Regions from separate parts of the Homo sapiens genome. Here region 2 is linked to region 1. Evidence: fine-mapped QTL for protein levels in blood plasma. A gene starts in region 1. The other region holds a variant in brackets. All regions are shown on one strand. Distances are between the middles of the regions. Region 1 holds the start of KREMEN1 (kringle containing transmembrane protein 1). Region 2 overlaps KREMEN1 (kringle containing transmembrane protein 1).

What was found. A credible set is the group of variants that fine-mapping cannot tell apart. PIP is the posterior inclusion probability: the model's chance that the variant is causal. Protein levels are from the aptamer-based SomaScan assay of Sun 2018.
Region 2: its variant is the best candidate, but not a certain one, in a credible set for the plasma level of the KREMEN1 protein (Sun 2018, PIP 0.75).

The regions. Positions count from the first base shown.
Region 1 is chr22:29,072,264-29,074,763 of GRCh38, forward strand. KREMEN1 (kringle containing transmembrane protein 1) reads left to right here and starts at 772. Exons shown (of 9, transcript NM_001039570.3): 1 at 772-964. The coding sequence starts at 868. It also overlaps a transcript of C22orf31 not described here. RefSeq lists a silencer at 461-790.
Region 2 is chr22:29,110,667-29,113,666 of GRCh38, forward strand. The region is part of intron 3 of KREMEN1 (kringle containing transmembrane protein 1); the gene reads left to right. Among named protein-coding and RNA genes, the nearest start is that of KREMEN1, 39 kb to the left of the region's middle. The variant CA/C (reference allele first, on the strand shown) is at 947.

The sequences.
Region 1 (2,500 bases):
TCTCCTGAGTAGCTGGGACCACTGAGTTATTTATTTTTTTCTTGTAGAGATGGGGTCTCGCTGTGTTGCCCAGGTTGGTCTCAGAATCCTGGGCTCAAGCGATTCTTCCGTCTCGGCCTCCCAAAGTGCTGGGATCACAGGAGTTGTTAGCCACCGCACTCGGCTGTAGGCATTCTTATTTAGTGCAAGCGCTCTGAGGAGTAGCAGCTATTATCACCTCCATTTAACAGATGAGGAAATTGAGGTAAGAGCTATTTTTCCTTTAAACCTGTCCAAGGTGTTACATGTGACCAAGTGGGATGTGAACTCTCCAAAGCATTCTTTTTTTAACCATTACGATGAGCTAAGCAAGGGAAAACAGTTTGCAAACTGCTGTTGTAATTATTACCGCTGTAGCTGAGCTCGCGCGTGGGTCACGACCTAAGTGAGGGTGGAGCAGGGGTCACTGGGAGCCCGGCCTATTTCAGCCCGGCCAAACCGCTTGGTGACTTGGAGGCCGGGCCGAGGCCCCGCCCCTCACCTGCTGATCCTACCCTTGGATGGGACAAACAGAGGGCCCTGCTGGGCCGGCCCAGGTGAGGCGAGAGATGGGCGGGGCCTGATGCGTGAGTGGCAGGAGCAGCGCGCGGCCGGGGCGGGGCGTGCGTGCGCAGTGGGCTCCGCCCCCCGGGCCTCTCCGCGGATCCGGGCGGGCCCCAGGCTGCAGGGGCGGTGGCGGCGCTGAGCTGGGCGGGCCGGGGCGGGGCGGCCGGGCGGCCGGGGCGGGGCTACACTCGGGCCCCGCGTCCTGCTCCCATGGCCGCCCCCGGCTCCCCGCGCTGCCCCCTTTACCCCGGGCCGCGCCCCGGGGCCCCGCACTGACGGCCCATGGCGCCGCCAGCCGCCCGCCTCGCCCTGCTCTCCGCCGCGGCGCTCACGCTGGCGGCCCGGCCCGCGCCTAGCCCCGGCCTCGGCCCCGGACCCGGTGAGTGTGAGCGACCCCCCGCCGCCCGCCCTGAGCGGAGCCCACTCGAGGGGCGACAAGGGCCGGCCGGCCTGAGAGCCCCCTCCCTCCCGCTTCAGGACCTTCCGGGCCCCTTCCCCTCGCCCCTAGGCGACGCCCCTCAGGCCGGGATGGTCCCTTCCTGGGACCCGGGCTACCCCCAGGCCCGTCATCGACGCCCCCGGGCCCGGTACTGTCCCCCGGCTGCAGGACCCGGTGCTCCTCAGCGACGCCCCTCAGCCCAGGAGGCCCTCTCCGCCTTGAGTCTTCCAAGACCCTCTGCGACGCCCCCCGGGCTGGGACATCTTCTCTGTCTCGGGATCTGGGACCCGCTGCCCGAGTCCCTCAGCGACCCCAACCAGGCCGGGACGCCCCCTCTCCCCGGTACCTCCTGGGATCCCGTCCCAAGTCCCCAGCGACTTCCCCCGGGCCGGGACGTCCTCTGCTCCCCGGTACCTCCTAGGATCCCGTCCCAAAATCCCCAGCGACTCCCCACGGGCCAGGAGGCCCCCTGCTCCCCGGTACCTCCTGGGATCCCGTCCCCAAGTCCCCAGCGACCCCTCCCGGGCCGGGACGACCCCTGCTCCCCAGTACCTCCTGGGATCCCGCCCCAAGTCCTTCATCGACGCACCTTGCACCGGGACGACTCCCCCGCTACAAGAGGCTATACGCCCCTCTCCGAGACCTCCAGCGACATCCCTCCCCTGGGCCAAGGTCCCCTCCCTGAGCCTCACTGCGACGCCCCCGCGTCCCCCAGTCCTCTCCTCCCGCCTACACCGGTGGAACCCGGCGCCTCCCCGCGCAGAGCAGAGCGGAGGCGGGAGGAGCCGGCGCTCAGCCCCTTTTCCCGAGTCCTCGGCTGCACCCGCTTGGCGGACATTATAACTTCTGCCTCGCGAGGAACGGGATGGACTTGTTCGCCCTGCTAGAGGCAGGTTAGGGTCCTGGGACGACCTTGTACCCAGACGGACGGGACGTGCCCTCTCTCTCCGCTGGGCCGCTTTGAACTTCCCTATGACTCAGGTGATGGCGCAGAAGGGGGAGAGAAAAAAGGAAGCAGTGATGGGAAACTTCTCCCCAACTGAGTTTAGGGTGCTCTTCCTGAGGGTGCAACGCCGAGCTCCGTGTTTTGGGTCAGCCCACACCTTAGACAGGTCACTCACTACCCAGGCCAAGGCCAAGGCCAGGTCTTCCCGAGGTGAGGCCCTGGACCAGGATGAAGCTTGGCTTTTGCTTAACTTCCACACGCAACCTTGTAGCCGAATCCTTTCTAAGTGGAAGAGAAGGCAAGAGGGCGTTGCATTTCTCTGCAGGCTGTTTGGGTGTTGAGCATAGGCCATTTGTGAAAGGGATGGGAAGAGTTTATTACCAGTCTGCAGGAGTAGGAAAACCCGCCTCTGGGTTCTCCACCCAAAGTCACAGACTGATGTTGGAAAGGATGGGATTTTGCTGGTGTAAGAAAACTCAGAGTTGCTTTGTTTACTCATTGGCTTGGATTAGCGAAAAAGCTAGGACTTG
Region 2 (3,000 bases), 39 kb after region 1:
AAGACTCGGGGGCACAATTAAGACTGTTGGAAGAATCAGAGTGACTGAAAAGGAAGTTTATGTTTAGAAATAAAGTTACAGAGGTAGTGTGGGGCCATATCATGAGAAGGGGTTGGACCAAGATGGCAGCTGTCAGATTTGGAACGGAAGTTGCAGATGAACAGCACAGGGTGCAGTGAGCTTACGGTCACGGGTCTGAGGGTGTGGATGAATCCACACTTAACCTGTTGATGCTCTGAAAGAAGTAGGATACCAGCTGCAGCGTCTCAGATGTACATAGTTTTTCTTTCCATGGAGGGGAGAAATCAGCTACTGAGGCACCAGTGTGGGGTCCTTGAGGCAGAAGATAGTATTGACACAGAGTTAAATGACATTTAAAATCAGCAGAGAAGCACTTTGGGAGGCTGAGGCAGGAGGATCACTGGAGGCCACAAGTTTGAGACAAGCCTGGGCAACATAGTGAGACCCCATCTCTACAAGATACACAAATAATTAGCCAGCCATGGTAGTACACACTGGTAGTCCCAGCTACTCGGGAGGCTGAGATGGGAAGATCACTTGAGCTCAGGAGTTCAAGACTGCAGTGAGTATGATTGTATCACTGCACTCCAGCCTGGGCAACAGAGTGAGACCCTGTCTCTATTAAAAAAAAAAAAAAAAATTAGGCCGGGTGCGGTGGCTCACGCCTGTAATCCCAGCACTTTGGGAGGCCGAGGCGGGCGGATCATGAGGTCAGGAGATCGAGACCATCCTGGCTAACACAGTGAAACCCCGTCTCTACTAAAAAAATACAAAAAATTAGCCGGGCGTGGTGGCGGGCGCCTGTAGTCCCAGCTACGCGGGAGGCTGAGGCAGGAGAATGGCGTGAACCCGGGAGGCAGAGCTTGCAGTGAGCTGAGATCGCGCCACTGCACTCCAGCCTGGGCGACAGAGCGAGACTCCGTCT[CA/C]AAAAAAAAAAAAAAAAAAAAAAATTAGCAGAGGAGTTACATCATTTCTGAAGAAGCAGATTTTACTTAGGAAAAAAAAAAAAGGAGCTCTGCAGAGCCTTGGAAAGAGTTTTTTAGTTTTTTAAGACATAGGACAAGAACTTAGCATCTGGTTTCTTAAAGCAAATATCCCAGATCTGGTGAGAGCAGTGGAATAGAAAACATAATAATAGTCAGGGCTGCTTCTTAGTGAATTACCAGCTGAAGATTTAGATTCAAACTGAGCCTTTACTATGATGGCCGTGCCTTCTGTCTTCGATAATGATTTGGTTACCAGGACTAGAACTCATTCAAGCTAACTTGAGCAAAAGAAATCAATTTGAAGACCATTGGGATGTATCACAGAACCCAAACCCTGTATCCCAAGAAACTAGAAAGAAAGCAGGGACTTTCACTATCTGTCTCTGTGGCCACTTCATCTCCCTTCTCTGCCTCTCTCTCAGCTTGTTATCCATCCTTCTTCCTCTTCGTGGACCAGCAGAATTGGCTCATTCATCCACTCACGTGGCTCAAACTTGAGTTTGGTTGCCTCAACTCCTACTTGACAAATCCCTACAATTTCAGTGCTTGCATTCACTGAGCGGATCCCAATTCCAGCTTCCTAAGAAAGAGAATCTGGTGGCCCCAGTGTGAGGCAGCTGTGGCCAGAGGATGGAGCCCTTTGTCTTGTCCCCAGCCAGCAGTAGTTATGGGAGCAGATGCTCTGAGAAGGTGCTGTGGGTAATAGGTGGTTCTCAAAGAACAGCTGTCAGCCATGGAGGCCCCCATGGAGGTGTGTGCAGTACCTTCACAATGAAGCCACAGTTATATTCAAATGTAACAATGTTTAGTGGGCCTGCCTGATTGCTTCCCAGTTGTTTCTTATGATAGTAAAAGAACAATAGTTCCTGGGTTAATGTGAATGGAGGACCTTCTCTCTTTAACTCCTCCAAAATTTTTATCTTCAACATCTGAATATTTGTAATTAATTTTCACAAGTTTTGAAGCCTCAGCTAAGATAAACAAGGGGTCCATTTGTATGTTAAGATAATTTTTTAAAAATTGAAAGTGATGAAGCCTCTTTGGTAAGAGGAAAAATGCATGACCAAGCCACAAGGATTTCAAAGTAAGCTTGAAATGAAAAAGGAATTTGAAGACAAATATCCTTTTTCAAATTGGCTTTTCCTCCCTGCTTCTGGGAAGCGCTAAGGGTGGGACACGATCTAGAAATCCACTCAGTTGAGTAGTAATGCTTTTGAAGCAACATGACGTGTCTTCTCCGACTAGACTTCGAGCCACACTTTCCAGGACAAGTCAGAGGCAGTGGCCCCCTCAGAGGCTGACTGGGACCGCAGAGGCTTCCCTCGTGGTGAACAGAGTGTTGAGGGACTAATGTGTTTGAGAATTCAGTCTTGAATCTCAGGTCTCAGGGAGTCACTTTCATTTAGTTGCCCAGACTGGTCCTATAAGAAAAGGGGTCAGAGACATGAAAAACAAAAACAAAAACCCATGGAATGGGAGTCGGCAATCCTGGAGCTTACCCTGGCTCTCCATTCTGCCTTATGTGTGCCCACACAAGGCCTTTAACCTTGTTAGACTGGTTTCTTCTTTGTCCAGTAGGAATAATATCATCTGTCCTGCCTCCCTGAAGGGGCTAGAGCTTCCTGTGAGCTGACTTATGTGAAAATGTGCTGTATGCTATACAGATGTAAGAGATTAATATTTTAATATCCGGAATCAAACCGTTTTCTGAGGTGGCTGCCTTTGATTTTTGTCTTTTAAATCAGCCTATTTTATTTTTCTGTTATTCAGCAAGTTGTTCTTGTTTGTGTGGTGAATGATGAAAGCCTTATTGTATATAATGATGACAAACACTATTTATTCAGCACATTCTATTCTGCTAGGCCTTGTGGTATTTACTTTATTTACATTATCTCATTTTATTTCTCACAAGAACCCTTTGAGGTCCGTATTGATTCTCATTCCGCTGTTGATGAAACTGAGCTGAGAAGGGCTGTGATGGAGAGGCCAGAAT